Linked DNA regions of Homo sapiens: region 1 is linked to region 2. The links come from fine-mapping of genetic effects on gene expression. A gene starts in region 2. The other region holds a variant in brackets. All regions are shown on one strand. Distances are from middle to middle. Region 1 overlaps LOC105369753 (a long non-coding RNA gene). Region 2 holds the start of ZNF641 (zinc finger protein 641).

Region 1 (10,946 bases), 74 kb before region 2:
CACTATTTTAAGGTACTCTTAGAATATCTACTACTGCAGATTTTTTAAGGTATTCTTTTTCAGTTCAGAAAGGTTTCCTTCTATACATAGTTTCCAAGAGGTTTGGTAATAAATGGGTGTGGAATTTTTCTGCCTACTTTTGTATTTAACTTTTTTTTTTTTTTTGAGTCAAAGTCTCGCTCTGTTGCTCAGGCTGGAGTGCAGTGGCGCGATCTCGGCTCACTGCAAGCTCCGCCTCCCGGGTTCAGGCCATTCTCCTGTCTCCTGCCTCAGCCTCCCGAGTAGCTGGGACTACTGGCGCCTGCCACCACGCCCGGCTAATTTTTTGTATTTTTAATAGAGACAGGGTTTCACCATGTTAGCCAGGATGGTCTTAATCTCCTGACCTCCTGATCCGCCTGCCTTGGCCTCCCAAAGTGCTGGGATTATAGGCGTGAGCCACCACGACCAGCCGTATTAAACTTTTTTAAATGATTTCATTTTATCTTCACTATTGGCTTATCATTTATACATCTTTACAGTTTTTAAGTGGCTGCCCTAGAATTTTTTTTATTATTATTATACTTTAAGTTCTAGGGTACATGAGCAGAACGTGCAGTTTTGTTACATGGGTATACATGTTCTGTTTATGTGATGGATTATGGTTATTGATTTGCATATGTTGAACCAGCCTTGCATCCCAGGAATGAAGGTGACTTGACCGTGGTGGATAAGCTTTATGATGTGCTGCTGGATTTGGTTTGCCAGTATTTTATTGAGGATTTTTGCATTGATGTTCATCAGGGATATTGGCCTGAAATTTTCTTTTTTTGTTGTGTCTCTGCCAGGTTTTAGTATCAGAATGATGGTGGCCTCATAAAATGAGTTAGGGAGGATTCCCTCTTTTTCTATTGTTTGGAATAGTTTCAGAAGGAATGGTACCAGCTCCTCTTTGTACCTCTGGTAGAATTCGGCTATGAATCCATCTGGTTCTGGACTTTTTTTGGTTGGTAGGCTATTAATTAGTGCCTCAATTTCAGAACTTTTTATTGGTCTATTCAGGGATTCGACTTCTTCCTGGTTTAGACTTGGGAGGGTGTATGTGTCCAGGAATTTATCCATTTCTCCTAGATTTTCTAGTTTATTTGCATAGATGTGTTTACAGTATTCTCTGATGGTAGTTTGTATTTCTGTGGGATCGGTGGTGATATCCCCCATATCATTTTTTATTGCGTCTGTTTGATTCTTCTCTCTTTTCTTCTTTATTAGTCTGGCTAGCAGTCTATCTATTTTGTGGATCTTTTCAAAACACCAGCTCCTGGATGCATTGATTTTTTGAAGGGTTTTTTGTGTCTCTATTTCCTTCAGTTCTGCTCTGATCTTAGTTATTTCTTGTCTTCTGCTAGCTTTTGAATTTGTTTGCTCTTGCTTCTCTAGTTCTTTTAATTGTGATGTTAGACTGTCAATTTTAGATCTTTCTGGCATTTAGTGTTATAAATTTCCCTCTACACACTGCTTTAAATATGTCCCAGAGATTCTGGCATGTTGTGTCTTTGTTCTCATTGGTTTCAATAAACATCTTTATATCTGCCTTCATTTCGTTATTTACCCAGTAGTCATTCAGGAGCAAGTTGTTCAGTTTCCATGTAGTTTTGTGGTTTTGAGTGGGTTTCTTAATCCTGAGTTCTAATTTGATTGCACTGTGGTCTGAGAGGCTGTTTGTTATGATTTCCGTTCTTTTGCATTTGCTGAGGAGTGTTTTACTTCCAATTGTGTGGTCAATTTTAGAATAAGTGTGATGAGGTGCTGAGAAGAGTGTACATTCTCTTGATTTGCAGTGGAGAGTTTTGTAGATGTCCTTTAGGTCTGCTTGGTCCAGAGCTGAGTTGAAGTCCTGAATATCCTTGTTAATTTTCTGTCTCATTGATATGTCTAATATTGACAGTAGGGTATTAAAATCTCCCACTACTATTGTGTGGGAGTCTAAGTCTCTTTGTAGGTCTCTAAGAATTTGCTTTATGAATCTGGGTGCTCCTGTATTGGGTGCATATATATTTAGGATAGTTAGCTCTTCTTGTTGAATTGATCCCTTTACCATTATGTAATGCCGTTCTTTGTCTCTTTTGATCTTTGTTGATTTAAAGTCTGTTTTATCAGAGATTAGGATTGTGACTCCTGCTTTTTTTCTTTTTTCTTTTTTTTTGCTTTCCATTTGCTTGGTAAATATTCCTCCATCCCTTTATCCCTTTATTTTGAGTCTATGTGTGTCTTTGCACATGAGATGAGTCTCCTGAATACAGCACACTGATGGGTCTTGACTCTTTATCCAATTTGCCAGTCTGTGTCTTTTAATTGAGGCATTTTGCCCATTTACATTTAAGGTTAATATTGTTATGTGTGAATTTGATCCTGTCACTATGATGCTAGCTGGTTGTTTTGCCCCTTATCTGATGCAGTTTCTTCATAGTGTTGATGTTCTTTACAATTTGGCATGTTTTTGCAGTGGCTGGTACCAGTTGTTCCTTTCCATGTTTAGTGCTTCCTTCAGGAGCTCTTGAAAGGCAGGCCTGGTGGTGATAAAATCTCTCAGCATTTGCTTGTCTGTAAAGTATCTTATTTCTCCTTTGCTTATGAAGCTTAGTTTGGCTGGATATGAAATTCTGAGTTGAAAATTCTTTTCCTTAAAAATGTTGAATATTGGTTGGGCACAGTGGCTCACACCTGTAATCCCAGCACTTTGGGAGGCCGAGGTGTGCAGATCAGGAGGTCAGGAGATTGATACCATCCTGGCTAACGTGGTGAAACCCCATCTCTACTAAAAAAAATACAAAAAAAATTAGCCAGACATGGTGGTGGGTGCCTGTAGTCCCATGTACTCGGGAGGCTGAGGCAGGAGAATGGCATGAACCCAGGAGACGGAGCTTGCAGTGAGCAGAGATTGTGCCACCGCACTCCAGCCTGGGTGATAGAGCGAGACACCATCTCAAAAAAAAAAAAAAAAAAAAAAAGAATGTTCAATATTTCCCCCCACTCTCTTCTGGCTTGTAGGGTTTCTGCAAAGAGATCCACTGTTAGCCTGATGGGCTTCCCTTTGTGGGTAAACTGACCTTTCTCTCTGGCTGTTTTTTCCTTCATTTCAACCTTGGTGAATCTGATGATTATGTGTCTTGGAGTTGCTCTTCTCGAGGAGTATCTTTGTGGTATTCTCTGTATTTCCTGAATTTGAATGTTGGCCTGTCTTGCTCGGTTGGGGAAGTTCTCCTGGATAATATCCTGAAGAGTGTTTTCTAACTTGGTTCCATTTTCCCTGTCACTTTCAGGTACTTCAATCAAACATAGATTTGGTCTTTTCACATAGTCCCATATTTCTTGGAGGCTTTGTTCATTCCTTTTTATTCTTTTTTCTCTAATCTTGTCTTCTCGCTTTATTTCATTAAGTTGATCTTCAATCCCTGATATCCTTTCTTCCATTTGATCGATTCCGCTATTGATACTTGTGTATGCTTCACGAAGTTCTCGTGCTGTGTTTTTCAGCTCCATCAGGTCATTTATGTTCTTCTCTAAACTGATTATTCTAGTTAGCAGTTCATCTAAGCTTTTTTCAAGGTTCTTAGCTTTCTTGAATTGGGTTAGAACATGCTCCTTTAGCTCGGAGGAGTTTGTTATTACCCACCTTCTGAAGCCTACTTCTGTGAATTCCTCAAACTCATTCTCCATCCAGATTTGTTCCCTTGCTGGCAAGGAGTTATGATCCTTTGGAGGAGAAGAGGTGTTGTGGTTTTTGGAATTTTCAGCCTTTTAGTGCTGGTTTCTCCCCATCTTTTTGGATTTATCTACCTTTGGTCTTTGATGTTGGTGACTTTCGGTTGGAGTCTTTGAGTGGACATGCTACTCCTTTCTGTTTGTTAGTTTTCCTTCTAACAGTCAGGCCTCTCCGCTGCAGGTCTGCTGGAATTTGCTGGAGGTCCACTCCCGACACTGTTTGCCTGGGTATCACCAGTGGAGGCTCAGTTGGAAATGCAGAAATCACCCATCTTCTGTGTTGATCTCACTGGGAGCTGCAGACTGGAGCTGTTCCTATTTGGCCATCTTGCCAGCAATCTGCCCTAGGAGTTTTCATAAACACATTTATTTAATCACAGTCTACCTTCAAATAGTATTATGCCACTTATGTGTAGCGTAATAACTTCCCTAATTTCTCTCACTCTTTATGCAATTGTTATATGTTTTACTTTTACTTGTGCTCCAAACCCAGAGTAGGTTGCCTTTGTTTTTGCTTTAGACAGTAAATTATCTTCTAAAGTTATTAACAAGAAAAAATATTTTATATTTACTTTGACTTTAACAATTCCAAAAGATCTTTGCATAGATTCAAGTTTCTGTCTAGTATTACATTCCTTCCTCTTAAAGAACTTTCCTTTTTTTTTTTTTCTTTTTTTTTTTTTTGAGATGTAGTCTCACTCTGTCACCCAGGCTGGAGTGCAGTGGCGCGATCTTGGCTCACTGCAAGCTCTGCATCCTGGGTTCATGCCATTCTCCTGCCTCAGCCTCCCAAGTAGCTGGGACTACAGACACCAACCACCATGCCCTGCTAATCTTTTTTGTATTTTTAGTAGAGACAGGG[T/C]TTCACCGTGTTAGCCAGGATGGTCTCAATCTCCTGACCTAGTGATCCACCCACCTTGGCCTCTCAAAATGCTGGGATTACAGGCGTGAGCCACCACACCCAGCCAAGAACTTTCTTTAACATTTCTTGTGGCATAGGTCTGCTTAATTTCTCTTTCATTTTGAAAAGTATTTTCACTTGGTATAGAATTCCATGTTACTTTTTTTTTCTTTTAACATTTTAAAGATGTCACTCTATGTCTTAGTTTCTTGTGATGACTATGCTGTAAATTTAATTTTTTTCCTTTAGGTAATGTGTCTTTTTTGTCTGACTGTCTTCTAGATTTTCTCTTTATCTTTGGTTTTCAAATGTTTAAATAGGACACATCGTGTGTGTGTAGTGTGTGTGTGTGTGTTGGTATTTATATCACTATGATTCTCTGAGCTTCTTGGATCTGTGGTTTGATGTCTTTCATTATTTTTTGAAAATTCTCAGCTATCATCTCTTCGTTTATTTTTCTACTCTGATCTCTTTCTCTTCTGGAATTCTAATTACATGTATGTTAGCCTGTTTAATATTGCCACATAACTCATATGTTCTGTCCTTTTTCTATTCTTTTTAATTTTTTTCCTTTAGTTTTGGTAATATCTGTTGACATATCTTCCAGTTTACTAATTGTTTTCCCTTTGGCTATGTTCAGTCTACTTATGAACCCATTGAAGGCCTTCTTCACCACTATTACCATACATTTAAATATTTTCTAACCTTTCTTTGGCCTGTTCTTAGTTTCTTTTTTTTATTTATTATTATTATACTTTAAGTTTTAGGGTACATGTGCACAATGTGCAGGTTAAGTTACAAATGTATATATGTGCCATGCTGGTGTGCTGCACCCACTAACTCATCATCTAGCATTAGGTATATCTCCCAGTGCTATCCCTCCCCCCTCCCCCCACCCCACAACAGTCCCCAGAGTGTGATGTTCCCCTTCCTGTGTCCATGTGTTCTCATTGTTCAATTCCCACCTATGAGTGAGAATATGCAGTGTTTGGTTTTTTGTTCTTGCGATAGTTTACTGAGAATGATGATTTCCAATTTCATCCATGTCCCTACAAAGGACAGGAACTCATCATTTTTTATGGCTGCATAGTATTCCATGGTGTATATGTGCCACATTTTCTTAATCCAGTCTATCATTGTTGGACATTTGGGTTGGTTCCAAGTCTTTGCTATTGTGAATAATGCTGCAATAAACATACGTGTGCATGTGTCTTTATAGCAGCATGATTTATATTCCTTTGGGTATATACCCAGTAATGGGATGGCTGGGTCAAATGGTATTTCTAGTTCTAGATCCCTGAGGAATCATCACACTGACTCCCACAAGGGTTGAACTAGTTTACAGTCCCACCAACAGTGTAAAAGTGTTCCTATTTCTCCACATCCTCTCCAGCACCTGTTGTTTCCTGACTTTTTAATGATTGCCATTCTAACTGGTGTGAGATGGTATCTCATTGTGGTTTTGATTTGCATTTCTCTGATGGCCAGTGATGGTGAGCATTTTTTCATGTGTTTTTTGGCTGCATAAATGTCTTCTTTTGAGAAGTGTCTGTTCATGTCCTTCACCCACTTTTTGATGGGGTTGTTTGTTTTTTTCTTGTAAATTTGTTTGAGTTCATTGTAGATTCTGGATATTAGCCCTTTGTCAGATGAGTAGGTTGTGAAAATTTTCTCCCATTTTGTAGGTTGCCTGTTCACGCTGATGGTAGTTTCTTTTGCTGTGCAGAAGCTCTTTAGTTTAATTAGATTCCATTTGTCAATTTTGGCTTTTGTTGCCATTGCTTTTGGTGTTTTAGACATGAAGTCCTTGCCCATGCCTATGTCCTGAATGGTAATGCCTAGGTTTTCTTCTAGGGTTTTTATGGTTTTAGGTCTAATGTTTAAGTCTTTAATCCATCTTGAATTGATTTTTGTATAAGGTGTAAGGAAGGGATCCAGTTTCAGCTTTCTACATATGGCTAGCAGTTTTCCCAGCACCGGCCTTTTCTTAGTTTCTAACTGCATACTGAAATTACCCACCTGTTGATGAATATTGCTTATTGTTTTCATTTCAGACTTTTCTACTTTGGATCTTTTCTACTAGGATCCAGCTGCTCTTTTGCAACTAGTAGATGACCTTGAGGATTCTAGCTTATTATCACTTCTGCCTACATCCCAGTCGTCAAAGCAAGCCACATGGTCATTCAATGGGCTGTATAGATCCCTAACATAGATAGGGATTATTATTCTGTTACAAGGAGAAAGAAAACAGTCTATTAAATTAACCTATGGAGTTGCCCATTTTAGAAACCTAGGAGTTATCTTTGATTCCTCCATTTTCCTCAGTCCCCACATTTAATCAGAAAGTGCTAGTGAATCTTTTGTCAAAGTACATATAGAATCTGTACATTTCTCTGTGCCATCCTAATCCAAGATACCATCATCTCTTCCCTGGGCTCCTAATTGGACCTTCTCATTTTTACTCTTGCCTTCCTCCTATCAATTTTCCCAACCAAAGCAAGAATTATCTTAAAATGTAAATCATTTCACATTGTTCATTCACTTAAAAAACAATATTCTGTTGCATTTGAAATGTTAACAAAAGAGCAATGAGATCTCTTGTGGAGGCAAAAGGAGAACTTTATTTTCTAAAAGCAACCTGCAGATTGAGGAGACAGCCTTCAGTGCAAAACAAAAGTGCACTCTAAGGAGGGGATTGGAGAGTTATATATCATAAAGATGAAGATTGCAGGCCAGAAGAGGAGTCAGGGAGTGAGGAACACAGTCTTGATTGGAAAACCTTTGATCTCCCAAATAACCAGTCTCTCTTAGTTGGCTGATTCCAGGTAATTGGCTGGCACCAGGTAACCTATTGGTGGTCAGTTGGGGAATTTCCAGCTGTAGTTGTTTTTGACATTGTTTTCAGGAACTGTTCTTTGACTTGATTGCAGAAAAACTGGTTTTACAATAGTTTTGACAGATACAGAGTGCATGATCACTCCCTCACTCTGCTATGGCCTCTTGGTTCTGCTTTTAGCTTTTGAGCCACAGGGAGTCTGCCTTGTCTGTCAATTGGGGGCATAATTTGATACATTTAAATTAAAATTTAAACTTCTAATAAGAGCAAGGCCATCCTCCCTCTGCCTCTCTTTCCAACCTCATCTCATTCTAGTTTCTTCTTTATTCACATTTCAGAAACTTGATATCTATAAGCTCTTCCCTATTTCATAGCTTTTGAATATGCTGTTCCGTCTCTCTAGAATGCTCTTTCTCTAACTTTTGCCAAGCCTTGCTCATTCTCTAACTTTTGCCAAGCCTTGCTCATTCTCATGCCTTAAGTCTTAGCATATGTGTCACTTTCTCAAATAGGCCTTCCCTGACCTTCCTCTCTAAAGCTGATCCCCTGCTGTTCTCTAACTAGCTCTTTGTTTAGTTCTATCATCATTCTAATTTGTCTGTTTACTTATCTTCCCAACTAGACTGTAAGGACCATGAAGGAAAGGGCCATTTCTGTGTTGTTTGCTGTTGTATCCCCACAGCTGGCCTTGACCTTGGTAATTTGTAAGTTTTTTTAAAAAGTGTTGAATGAGTGAGTAAATAGGTAGATGAGATAATGAGGGTATAATCCAGGGCAGCAGCCGTAGGCAAAGAAAAGAGAGAACATTGGAAACTTTTAAGACTCAGATTAAATGCTTAATCTTCTCTGAGGTCTCTCCTTATCTTTTCAGCCAGAAATTGAGTATAGTGTCTCACTTATGAACCTTTGATTTTGTTTATGCCTCATTTGTTGTGTTTAACATTCTCTACCTCTTGTAATGATTGTTTTAAATGACAGCTCTTTCCTGCCAGGATTTTACCCATCTTAAAGGAAAGACCATATTTTATTCATCTGTCTCCCATAATAGTCAACACCCTGCTTGGCACATAATAAGCTGATTATATGTTTTGAATGAAAAAGTGAGGGAAAGACTTGAACACTTTTGTGTTCTAGGGTGAGGAGAAAGGGTCTGCATAGATTGGGTTCTTGGATAACTTCCCTGTGACAGCCTCTCAGGGAGGGACCTAAGCTTCTTGAAATAAGTTTTCCAATCTTATTACAAAGGTTATTTTTCCATGATATGAGCTCACTATACTTCACTTTCTGAAGGAGACCAAAGAAAGATATAATGTATTGACCTTTTCTGGATTTGATAATCTCAATTTATAGTGCAGAGCATTGCCCGGCACATGCCAGTTAGGCCAATAAAAATGACTTTGAACTTCCAAACTTTTCTCCCTGGAGAAGCAGAGTAATAGTCTTGATCACACTCTAAGGAGGCACTTGGGTCCCAGCCAATCTCTGCCCAGTTGGTCCCCTCGTCCTTCCTCCTTCTCTGGTATCTGGGGGAACAGGCCTGAGGGGAGGGGAAGGTAGTGTTGAGCCGGGACCGTCAGGGTCTCATTAGCATTTGGTACTTAGATAATCCCAGCTGTTCCATGTGTGGAAATCTCCACGGGCAGCTTTACATCAGATCAATTAAGGCCAGCTTGAGTTTTGCTTTTACTCTAAATGATTCTCAAGAGTTTAGTTAGGAAGATACCTACAGGGACTGCTCAGTGACTATCCAAGGAGGATCACAGGAGCAACTGGGATTTATTAAAAGAGTGAGCAAAGGGCCCATGTCCAGGAGGTGTCCCTGCAGATCTTGTTCCAAGTATCATGAGTAAAATGGCAACTCCAGCACCAGCTCTCCCAGCTGTGTAACTTAAGTACTGTCCCTACAAAGTCCTCTCTATTCTCACCCTAAATCTTACCCTTGCAGTTATTTCTGGATTAGTCAGAAAGTCCCTGACTTTGGGACATATCTATTAACATACACTTCTCATATAATCTATCCCAATCACTGACTGGGATAAAAATTAAATCCCCTTCTGGAAAAAAAAGACATTAATCTCATTGCACCCGGCATCACAGAATGTTTCTAATAATAACAAATGGACAACAATTATTCTACAAGAGATAAACTGTTAAATTAAATATAGAACACCTACATAATGGCATTTTATACAGTCAATATATCTATGATGAGTTCTTTATACCACGGATACATACTTACCTATAATTTTAAGGAAAATTCAGGATGAAAATTCTACATATCATGTGAAAAAGTTATGCCAAATCACATTTAGGCAGTGGAAATATACCAAAATGATAACTATAGAAGTCATGAATATTTTTGAATTGTTATTCTTCTTTATAGTTTTTTTGTAGTTTCAATGTATTACTATCATAATCAGGAGAAAACACATTAAAATTGTAATGGGTCCACTCAACACAGATATTTCTAACATAACACCAAAGAAAAATGTCCAATCAATCTATTCATCTCCTAGGGCTGCCATAACAAACGACCACAAATTGAGTGGCCTAAAGGAGTGGGAATGTATTCTCTCACAGTTTTGGAGACTAGAAGTCCAAAATCAAGGTGTTGGCAGAATTGGTTCCTTCTGGAGATTCTGAGGGAGAATCTGTTCCATGCTTCTCTCCTGGTAACTGCCAGAAACCCCTGGCATCCTTTGCCTTATCATTACCTTAATCTCTGCCTCTGTCATCACATGACATTCTCCTTGTGCGGCTCTGTGTGTGTTCAAACTTCCCCCTTCTTCTAAGAATTAGTCATTGGATTAGGGACTGCCTTTATTTAGTTTGGCCTCATCTCAACTTGATTGTATCTACAAAACACTATTTTCAAATAAAGTCATATTTACAGAGAGGTTTGCTGGCAGAATAATTCCTAGATCTCACTCCAGTGTCCCCCTTGGTAGAACCCAAATGGAAGCCAGAGGACAAAGGAGCTCGCTGATGTAGAACATACAGATTAGCTACTATAGGGGTTCCCAGCCCCCAGGTCACAGACTGGTACTGGTCAGTGGCCTATTAGGAGCTGGGCCACACAGCAGAAGGTGAGTGGTGGGCAAGCAAGTAAAACTTCATCTGTATTTACAGCTGCTCCCCATTACTCACATTACCACCTGAGCTGTGACCCCTGTCAGATCAACAGTGGCATTTGATTCTCACAGGAGCATGAACCCTGTTGTGAACTGCACGTGTGAGGGATCTAGGTTGCACACTCCTTATGAGAATCTAATGCCAGATGATCTGTTGCTATCTCCCATCACCCCCCAGATGGGACCATCTATTTGCAGGAAAACAAGCTCAGGGCTTCCACTGATTGATTCTACATTATGGCGAGCTGTATAATTATTTCATTATATATTAAAGTGTAATACTAATAGGATATTAATAGAATAATAATAGAAATAAAGGGCACAATAAATGCTTGAA
Region 2 (10,946 bases):
AGCGATTCTCCTGTCTCAGCCTCCCAAGTAGCTGGAATTACAGGCACCCACCACTACACCCAGCTATTTTTTTTGTGGTGTTAGTAGAGACGGGGTTTCACCATGTTGGCCAGGCTGGTCTCGAACTCCTGACCTTGTGATTTGCCCACCTCGGCCTCCCAAAGTGCTGGGATTACAGGCATGAGCCACCGTGCCTGGCCATATCTTTATATTTTTAGGCAGCACAGTATGGTGGTTAGGAGCTCAGAATCTGGAGCCAAGTGACTCAGCTTTGCCACTTTCTTGCAGCATGACCTACACAAGTGCCTTAATCTCTCCCTGCCCCATTTCCTCATCTGTAAAATTGGATAACTGAGTTGTTCTCAGAATTAAATGAGTTAATATACATAAAGCACCCAGAAAATGGCATACATGATAAACACTCTGGGGGTGTACTCTATTAGTACTAACACTATTAGTATTAGCTTTCCACAGCTCTCCTATTGCCTTCTGAATCTAAACCTAATTTCCTTTCTAGCTCTGCCCCTCTTTATAACCTTCTTCCTCTTCTTTTCCATAAATGCTCCCTCATCTACCCAATCCTTCCACTTTAGGTTCTTCTAAGCTTTCTTCAGGTCCTCTTTTCCTAATCTTTCCAGATTTATTTCTTAAAGGAAGGTAATTAATTATTCTTAAAATCCTCCTGTGGATAACAAACACAGCCATCCATTAAAAACCCTAACCTTGGCCAGGCACGGTGGCTCATACCTGTGACCCCAGCACTTTGGGAGGCTGAGGTGGGCAGATCACCTGACGTCAGCAGTTCAAGACCAGCCTGGCCAACGTGGCAAAACCTTGTCTCTACTAAAAACACAAAAATTAGCTAGGTGTGGTGGCGTGTGCCAGTAGTCCCAGCTACTTGGGAGGCTGAAGCACAAGAATCGCTTGAACCCAGAAGGTGGAGGTTGCAGGGAGCCAAGATCATACCACTGCACTCCAACCAGGGCAACACAGTGAGATTCTGTCTCAAAAACAAAAAACAAAACAAAACTCAAAAAAACCCTAACCTCAAGGAATTCCCTTTCTTGTAGGTCCATTTAATTTTCCAAGGGTCTTATGACCCCTTGGAAAGGGATAGAATCTATTCAGTTATAAGATGAACATACCATTGATGATCATGTGAGCCAACTCATCAATGGGCTGATGCGAAAGCAATACAAAGGCAGCAGTGATGGGACCACAGGAGACGCCAAGGGAAGCAGAGCTCACCTGTGATCCAGCCGCAAGAAGTGCAGCTGCCATCTCCCAGTCTCCAGTGTTCCCCTCCTGGGGAATTGCAGGAACCCAGGGAGCAGACTGAGCTGATAAGGAGAGAGAAGAAACATTAGAGAATAACGATCTACCCTTTCTCAATGGGGCCTGGGCCCCATTTTAGAGAGGCTTAAGGGTCACAACTTCTGTATCTATGCCCATTGGTAAAACTCAAATGCATAAATGTAGATGAGAAGGCCATCACTCAAAATGTTCTGAAAGGGTATCAGATGGCTTTTAGTTAGACTAGCTATAGTTTGAATTTACAGTACTTGAATGTAATTTTCATCTAGTAAATTACATCTTACTGAGTGGGTTATCCAACAGTAATCAGGTTGCTGTCACTTCCTTCATCTCCCTCATTCAGTATCACTAATTATGCATTTGCATGTGGAGGGAGTAATTATGAAGAAACAAGAGAAGCCCAGTTGCATGGTTTGCTGAATTCAGGAGCCTATTCTGTACCTGTGACCAGGGCTGAGAAAGAATGGGCTGGTCCTGGTACAGGTTATGCTATTTAGTCCATGGCAATTTGGAGATTTTTAACCCTACTTTTGGAATAAATATTAGGAGACTATGCACTGTGCTTCCCACACACTCTGTGAGTTCTCACCCTTCTCCTGAAGGGACTGTGGCTCCTCTTCAAGGTCACAGCACAGGTGCTCCAGAGGTCCTGGTACTGTTCTCCATGGCCGCTCTTCCTGGCTTCCCCTTTCCACCTGGGGCTCTGCTCCATCCAGCTGTACATTCATTGATTCCCATCCTGTCCCCAGCGCTGCTGTCTGTTCTGAAAGCATTTCTGCTGCAGACCCAAATTGTGACCTGGAACAAATTCATATCAGCAATGCCCATGAAAATGGGAAAGGAGTGATATTTCTAAGGGAGTTATGAAGAACAGGCCCAGGGATAATAGACAAAACTAGATAGGAGGAGCTTGCTGGAAGATGAACTTTAAAAGCTTGATGTGTTCCGATCAACGGAGCCTGCACCAAGCTTCTTGGAGGAACTAAGAAATTGGCAGGTGCTACGTAGCAAAGCCACTAACTGGTATTTTGTGGACCTCATTATAGAAACAGAATATACCTGAAGGTTAGAAGAAGTTCATTTAAAAAAAAAGAACTGTCCTGGAAATTCAAAGGCTATCCATTTAATTTCAAGCACATGAAGTACAGGAAAGTAAGCAATTTGGAAACATACAGGAAGAAATACATATAGACCTGCACTCAACAAGATGGATGTAATCACACAGAAGATTTTCTGCCACAAATCACAGTCTCATCAGTTTAGAATGAAATGATTACTATAGGTAAAAGTCCCAACCAAGGGGCGTATTTGTATCATGAGGCTGGGCCAAAAGGTACCTCACTTGGGACAAGCCTCAATAAAAAGGCACTTGGTCTACCATCCAATGAAAACTGGTAGTAAATATGGTAGAAAAACTGATAACTTGGAAAGCAGGTGTTAAGACTCCAAAGTAATCCTAAGAGGTAAGAGAAATTGTTGGTCTGTGAGGAGCTGAAGTTTAATCAGGAAAAGTAAAAAGGAACAGAAAGAGTTTGAACCAGAGCTGGAAAAGGGGGGAAGAACTGCTGCTAACATGACCCAGAAGAACAAACCTGTTTATTTGTCAGGCACCAGTCAGATCTCATTAGAAAAATATATTCAGTTTGAAAGAAGCGTATGGTGAAGCCAGTGTGTGTTCATCAGAAAACATCAAAGTCAAGAAAGGGATTGGAAATACAGCCACTGGGAAAGTTAAAAATGTCGGATGTAGTTTTCTCTGTCTGGAGAAGAAGGCTGATGAATGATGCTACTAATGAATAAAAACAGAGGTCCCTTCTATCTCTATATAGGTCAAACAGAAAAAAATGGGTCTTGATTGCAAGAGAAGAGATTTAGGTTATTTTTTTTTAATTCTTAATAATCCTGCAGTGTACAATACCAGATAGTGGGCTCTTCTTTTTCTTTAGACAACTTAAGAGCAGGATGGGTCACACTTCTGTTGTGATAGGGCTTTATGGCAGAGAAATAATCTGAGACTCAGAATCTCTTTCTGTTTGGCAACATATTTTGGGTATTCTTATTCAATATCCAAACAGTCAGAGTCAGTGAAAGGCTTCCAAGAGCAGTCAGAAACTTGGTAACTATCCTGGCTTACTTACATCCTTTCAATAACACTTGCAAGAACCTTGAAGGCCAGGGTAGGTAATCACAGATGTCAAGTCGTCTATTTTCTTGCCTATTTGTCTTTGACAAAAGAGGTAGGTGGGAACCCTAAGCCCAATGCACAGGAAAAACAAATTCCCTTTTTATCTCAGAAGTCCAAAGATGGCTCAGGGCCTCATGGGAGCACCCTGGACTGATTCCCAGCCTAGGAGGTTTCCTTTTCAGAGACTTTTCATGAGAAAGGAAAATTCTTGCTAAAGCAATAAAGGGAAACTTCCATTTTAGCTCTCTTCTCTGAATTCCAGCTCTGTATCCACTTTTAACACACAGGGCACTAATTCTCCCTCTTCGTCCCATCTTTCTGGTTCTCTAGCTCCTGTGCAAATCCTCCCTGAAGGCTTTACCTCTAGCTACATATCTGGACACTTGTCTCAAACCCTTTCTCCATCTCCCCCAGGTAGCAGAGTCTCTTAATGGGAAGCCTCTTTGTGCAGAGCCCATTGGGCCAGCTGTAAGTTTTTCTATACCACTGACAGAAATCCGTGGAAGTGCTAGCAAAAATCTCAGCAAAGGATGGGATGGGTACCTGTCCTCAGCTTGCATTTCCTAAGATATTCACGCAGAGCCAGCACCTGGGCGGTTAAGGTGGTAGCCCTAACCTCGTTTCTCCTGGTTCCAGGATGATCCCATGCCCACTGCAGTGTGGGTTCTAGGGCTTTCATTTCCCCCTTTTCTTCACACATATGGGTAGCAAGGGACCTGCAAAAGGAAGTTTCTGCAGCCAGTGCTGATGAACAGAAAAGGGGCCATGTTATAAAAATGAGTAGCCCAAGGGCACACGGACGAGTTGGCTCCGTCCATCAGAGAACCCTGGCCCCTGCCACGGGTAGGGCATGGGCGGGACGGGAGCCTGCTCAGGGGTAAGGTTGCTTCTTCCCTTCTTCTTGTCACAGTGCCCCTGGAAAGGGTCAGATTTCAGAGAATCCGAGCAAGGCAGAACTGGAGCAGGGGAAGTGAGGTCAGAAAACAGGTTTCCCATGAGCTGGGGCATGAGCAAGTGAAGAGAAAGGGAGCCACGGGGTAACCTGTGCGCGAGTGACAGCGGCGGGAGCCCGCAGGGCCTGACAGTTGCGATGGGCACGGGGAGACAGGGCGAGAGGCGGGCACAGAATGTCAGCGGGGCAGACCCCCGGGAAAGGCAGCAACCCGGAAGACGCGCCGATCCTCCTCCCAGCCCCTATGGGTGACCGAGCCCCCACCAGCCGCCCCGGGAAGCCAGGCGTCCCTCCCTCCAGCCGCAGCTCCCTCCGGCCCGGCTCCACTCACCCCCGGTAGGCTTGGCCCGCGGCCCGGTGCCTCCCTCCCGGGCGCCGCCTGCCCCTCCCCTCCGCCCTCCGCTTGCGTCTGGGAGCCGGCGGCCGGCGGAGCCAGCGACAGGCGGAGACGGCGGCCCGGCAGGCGCGGGCGGGGCGGGGCGGGCACAGGAAATCCCCGCCCGCTTCCGGGGCTCTGCGGCGGCGGAGGTGCGGGGAGTGGGAGGGAGAGGAGTGGGAGGGAGAGGAGTGGGAGGGAGGGAGGGAGGGAGGGACGGGAGGGGGCGGGGCTGCGGCTCAGGCGCCCCCAAACGCGAACCCGGGACCTCCGCGCCCGCCGCTGTGGGGAGGGTGCGGCCCGAGACGCTTGGAGGGCGGCGGGCGCCGGAATCGCAGCCTGCTGTGGCCACTTGCCCGCACTCTTGCCTGACTGACCATTTTCCGCTCTGGCTACTGGGCCTCCCACGGAGTTCTGTCCTCAGGGTTCGTCAATTACCTGGAATTGCGTAACCGCCCGTTACAGGCCAGACCGAGGCCGAGAGCGATTTCTCCAGACAACAGTCTGGAATTCCTCAAGGAGCGTACCCTCTAGTTTTCACGATAGGATAAAGGGCTTGAGAGAGCACTGAGGAGGAGTCACTTATTCTGCCTGAGGGGAAGTCAGGTTGCTATCTGAAGTTGGCCTTGCGGCTGCTGTCCCATTTGCGGGAGCCGTAGCCGCAGGTGACACCTGAGCTCTCGAAATGTGGCTGGTCTGAATAGAGATGTGTTCCAAGATTTAGAAGATTTAATTTAAAAAGTGATATTTTGGGTATATTGGGTTAAATATATTAAAATTAATTTCACCTGGTTTTAACTTTTTAAATGTGGCTATAAATATGGCTTGCATTATATTTCTATTGGATAGTGCTACCTTGCAGCATTAAGATGGATTTGACTAGAAAAGATGAGAAGGGCCTACAAACAGTGAGTAAACCCATTGCTGTTAGAATCTGTTTATAACCTACAAGTCACATTCACATTCCTTATTTCATCATTACAACAATTTTCAAAAATTTTATTTAGTAGACTTAAAAAATAATTGACTCACTTAAGGTCATATGTGACAATCATTCGTTTAATGCATATTTATTTTCTACGTGTGCCAGACACTGTAACTAAATGCTGGGAGTTAAAGGATTCACAGTCTGGGGAAGCACATGTCAACAAATATTTGCAATAAAAACGTAGATTCTAAAACAGAGGAACGTACGCTGCACTTGAAGCAAAGAGAAGTGACCACGTATGGGACGGAGGTCAGAGAAGGCCCCCCACTCTGACAGAAATCGTGAGGCAGAGAAGAGTCAGGAGGGCTGTCTAATGAAAGAGGAAAATGCAGTAGACACGCAGTTGGGAAGAGTATAGAGCATATTCTAGGAGCAGATCATGGGATATGTCGGGGTAGTAGTAGAGCCAGAATTTTTATCCCGGGTCCTGGAACTAAGTCCAGGGGTTCTTTTCACTTATGCTACCACTGGTGGTAAATATAAGGTGCGTTAATTGGAGTAGGCTAGCAAAACCAGTATCTCGGGGCTTAACTCCATAAAGGCTTATGTTCATACAAGTCACAGTGTGGTAACAAGTTGGTTGGGGCCAGAGGGTGGGGTCTGTACTTCTTGAATTCATTGAAGGACCAGGCTTCTTGCATTTGGTGGTTCTCCCATGCCGAGGCCTTGGTAATGTAGTCAAATCTGTGGCCCTCAGATAAGGGAGGCTGGCCGTGGTTAACTTGTCAGAGATATTAGGGGCCAGTCCTGGAAGTGGTGTGTATCATTTTCACCCCATTCCCTTAGCCAGAACTCATGCGCATGGTCACATGGCCCTACCCAGAAGGGTGGCTGGGAAGTAAAGAATGTGTGCCTCATGGAAAAGGAAATGGGCGCTGCTGGACACAGCATTGCCTCGTCACACAGAGTTAAATTGAACATAACCAAGTACGTAAACCTGACTTTACCTGAAAAGAATGTTTGGAAAGAACTGATAGATATTATAATAGCCCAAACTCTCCTCGACTGTTTTGGGAAACAAATCAGTGTGAGATTGTTTCCAAAAAATAAAAAAAGCCAGGTGCAGTGTCTCATGCCTGTAATCCCAGCACTTTGGGAGGTAGAGGCGGGCGGATCACAAGGTCAGGAGTTCAAAACCAGCCTGGCCAACATAGTGAAACCCTGTCTCTAGCTGGGCATGGTGGTGCGTGCCTGTAGTCCCAGCTACTTGGGAGGCTGAGGCAGGAGAATCGCTTGAAACCAGGAGGTGGAAGTTGCAGTGAGCAGAGATCGTGCCACTAATACTCCAGCTTGGGCAACAGAATGAGACTTCGTCTCAAAAAAAAAAAAAAAAAAAGAGGCTGAATGGTATCATCTTCTTTATACCAGAACCTTTTCTTTTTAAAAATAACTTTTATAATTTTAAATTTGTGTAGTTACATAATAGGTGAATATCTTTATGGGGTACATGAGATATTTTGATGCAGGTATGCAATGCATGATAATCACATCATGGGAATCAGGTATCCATCCCCTCAAGCATTTATCCTTTGTGTTACAAACAATCCAATTATACCCTTTTAGTTACTTTAAAATGTACAGTTATTATTGACTATAATAACTATTAAATACTAGGTCTATTAAATACTAGGTTGTTCTATTAAATACTAGGTCTTATTCATGCATTCAAACTATTTTTTGTACCCATTAACCATCCTCACTGTCCCCATTCCCCCATTACCCTTCCCAGCCTCTGGTAACCATCCTTCTACTCTCTATCTCCATGGGTTGAATTGTTTTGATTTTTAGATCCTCCAAATAAGTGAGAACATGTGATGTTTGTCTTTCTGTGTCTGGCTTATTTCGCTTAACATAATGACTTCCAGTTCCATCCATGTTGTTGCAAATGACTAAATCTCATTCTTTTTTTATGGCTGAATAGTGCTCCATTGTGTGTAAGTACCATTTGTTCTTTATTCATTCATCTGTTAATGGACACTTAGATTGCTTCCAAATCTTGGCTATGGTGAACAGAGCTGCAACAAACATGGGAATGCAGATATCTCTTTGATAAACTGATTTCCTTTCTTTTAGGTATATACCCAGCAGTGGGATTGCTGGATCATATAGGAGCTCAATTTTTAGTTTTTTTGAGGAACCTCCAAACTGTTCTCCCTAGTAGTTATACTAATTTACATTCCCACTAGCAGTGTATGAGGGTTCCCTTTTCTCTACATCCTTACCAGCATTTGTTATTGCCTGCTTTTTGAATATAAGCCATTTTAACAGGAGTGAGATGATATCTCATTGGAGTTTTGATTTGCATTTCTCTGATGATCAGTAATATTGAGCACCTTCTCATATGTCTGTTTGCCATTTGTATGTATTCTTTTGAGAAATGTCTATTCAAATCTTTTGCCTATTTTTTAACCAGAGTATTAGATTTTTTCCTGTAGAGTTGCTTGAGATCCTTATATATTCTGGTTATTAATCTCTTATCAGATAAGTAGTTTGCAAATATTTTCTCCCATTCTGTGTGTTGTCTCTTCAATTTGTTGATTGCTTCTTTTGCTGTGCAGAAGCTTTTTAACTTGATGTGACCCCGTTTGTCCATTTTTGCTTTGGTCGTCCGTACTTGTACAGAACCTTGTCTTAAACATCACAAGGAATAAATTCAAAATGTCTTTATATTATGCTTTGGTGTGCCATCTCTTTAGTTATCAGTTAACAAACCCTGCAAGGTGTAGATCTGCATGGGTTCAGGGACATTAAGTGAGCCAAGAGGCACAATCAGGAATTGAGCCCTGGTCTGACTTCTCACTGGGTGCACCTTTAACCAGAGTGGTACTTTACCTTTTACAATGGACAAGTACAAACTCCTATGCAATGTTACAGCAGGGATTAATTAACTATGCATTGAGTAGCAGGCAGATGATTCCATCTTTTTCAGACTTTCTGATGGAGGAGTTTCAAGATCAGCTTTGAAGGTGAAATGTAGGAAGGGCATCCCATATAGAATCAGAAGGCAGAAATGGACATGCTGTGGCATGTTGTGGAATGAAGAACACACATATGTGGGGGTGTCAGTCTAGAGTAGAGAAGAAACAGGGAAATTGATAGAATAGTGGATGAAGGTGGTGGATGAAGAATTTTTTATTTGCTATATCAGGTGATAGGGAGTCATTATATTTGTGTTTAAAAGGAAGTGATACACCTGATGGTGCCAATTATATCATTGTAAGGAGACTTGGTGGTCCTGGGCTGCTCTGTTGATGGAATTCTGGTAACTGGGATGAGTTGGGCACACAGGTGGATTCTAATGTGTGGAATACAGAGTTCCTTGGGACATAGCAGCATTCTTCCTGCTGCTGTTGGTCATAAGTAGATACAGGGTATGAACTGTGAGAGTGAGTGGCTGCAGTGGTGAACACAATCATTTAAGGTAAAATAAAGCCAAGGAACTGAGAGACTAGAGTGCTAGCAGGGATAGGGTTCAAAATATTTAACTACTAGTGCTAGCATGGCATGGACCCATCAAAATAGATGTAGCCCATAACGCTGGTGCAGGGTCCTGCAGGCACCTTGTTGTGTTAGATGATTACTTTTTGTTTCTGAATCGTGAAGAGATCTGTTGAATCCTGATGAGGGGCTAGAGCATTGAGGCATGACATTGAAGAGGATTGACAGTGGCTATGAAAATATTTCAGTATTTTAGCAAGGAATACAATTATACTTGCACATATTCATATGCATGAGATGCATTGTCCTCATGGATGTTGAAGTCACTAGGAATAATGAAGGCATTATGGAGAGAGGGATAGTAAGCCAGTTGATGGAGTCTTAAATGAAAGGTGAGTGACCAGGAGTGTGGTAGGTAATAATAACAAGGAGGAGTGTGTGTGGAATAGTTTGATGACATGTGCTTCAATGCAGCTGGACATTATTTAGAGAGGAAGGATGAAAATGGTACTTGAAGCAGCAAGGAGAAAAGAGAGTTCACTATACTGAACAGAGACCACTTGCCCCAACACCGAACCTGAAGTAGAGCCTGGGTATCTGAAAAAAGCTGTCCCATAGAATGAGAGAACCACAGCGAGATGAGAAGGGCATGCGGAGAAGGCTTTGCCTTGGCCCTCAGAGGAGCAGATGCTCAGTATGACAGATGTGATTCTAGAGTAAGAGAAGAAGATTAGGGAAAGTGTCAGTAGCCCCCAGAATGCCTGTGACACAGCTAGAAGAATCTCATTGACAGTGGGATCAATGTAGGACAGAGGGAAGAATGGAGGCAGCTTACACCTGAAATAAGGATGATGTCAGGCCCACAGAAATGTAACTTGTGGGTGAAAAGACTGTCCATCAAGGAAATCAGAAATCCCGCTGCCCAAGCAATTCTCAAAATCACCATACAGAGAGATCTGTTCATGACCATGGTATAGACCACAGGGTGGCGGATGGTAGCATAGTGATCATAGGCCATGGCAGAGAACAGACAGGCTTCCGTTCCCCCAGAGAGAGTGAAAAAGAAACTTGGTGAGGCAGCCCCACATTGAGATGCTTTTCTTCTGAGAGGAAATTTTGTAGCATCCTGGGCACAGTAACTAGGAGTAGCTGAGATCCAGAAAGGACAGATGTCAAAGGAAGAAGTACATGGGTCTTTGAAGGTGAGAATCAGCCCTGATCTCCAGGATCATCACCAGCTTCCCCGTCAAAGTCAGGAGATGAATCACCAGGATTAGCACAAAGAGCATGATCTGGATCTCTGCATCACTGGAAAATCCCACAAGGACAAACTCAGGACTAATATTGACATTTATTATGGTTGCTTAGAGATTCTGTCCCTCAAAAGAAATGAATGGTTCTCTACTTGGCAGGGCATTCATCTGAGTCATTCTCACTGAACAGGAGTTTTCTACTTACAGACGAGTATACCTCCTTACCTATGGCCCAAAATGGGAAACTCGGGATAAGGAAGTGTCATCTTAAGTACAATCTCCTCACTTGCCCTTCTTTCCTACCTTCTAGTACTGTCTCTGCATGATCTTGAAGGCTTTACTCTGTACCTCCATCACTGTTTAGTAAATGTACCAAGTGCATATGAATCAGGTAGGTCCTGGAGTCAAAATGAGACAAACTGCCCCAGTGGCAAAGCCTA

The links. PIP is the estimated chance that this variant, and not a neighbour inherited with it, causes the effect.
Region 1: its variant is fine-mapped to the expression of ZNF641 in whole blood (INTERVAL, PIP above 0.99).

What each region holds. Positions count from the first base shown.
Region 1 is chr12:48,271,766-48,282,711 of GRCh38, forward strand. It overlaps LOC105369753 (a long non-coding RNA gene), which reads right to left. Exons shown (of 4, transcript XR_944923.3): 4 at 7,241-7,686. Among named protein-coding and RNA genes, the nearest start is that of H1-7, 52 kb to the right of the region's middle. The variant T/C (reference allele first, on the strand shown) is at 4,604.
Region 2 is chr12:48,346,004-48,356,949 of GRCh38, forward strand. ZNF641 (zinc finger protein 641) reads right to left here and starts at 4,916. Exons shown (of 6, transcript NM_001172681.2): 1 at 4,783-4,916; 2 at 1,904-2,112; 3 at 1,249-1,340. The coding sequence starts at 2,087. It also overlaps the pseudogene OR5BK1P. RefSeq lists enhancers at 4,427-4,496, 4,935-5,671 and silencers at 4,637-5,066, 5,347-5,426.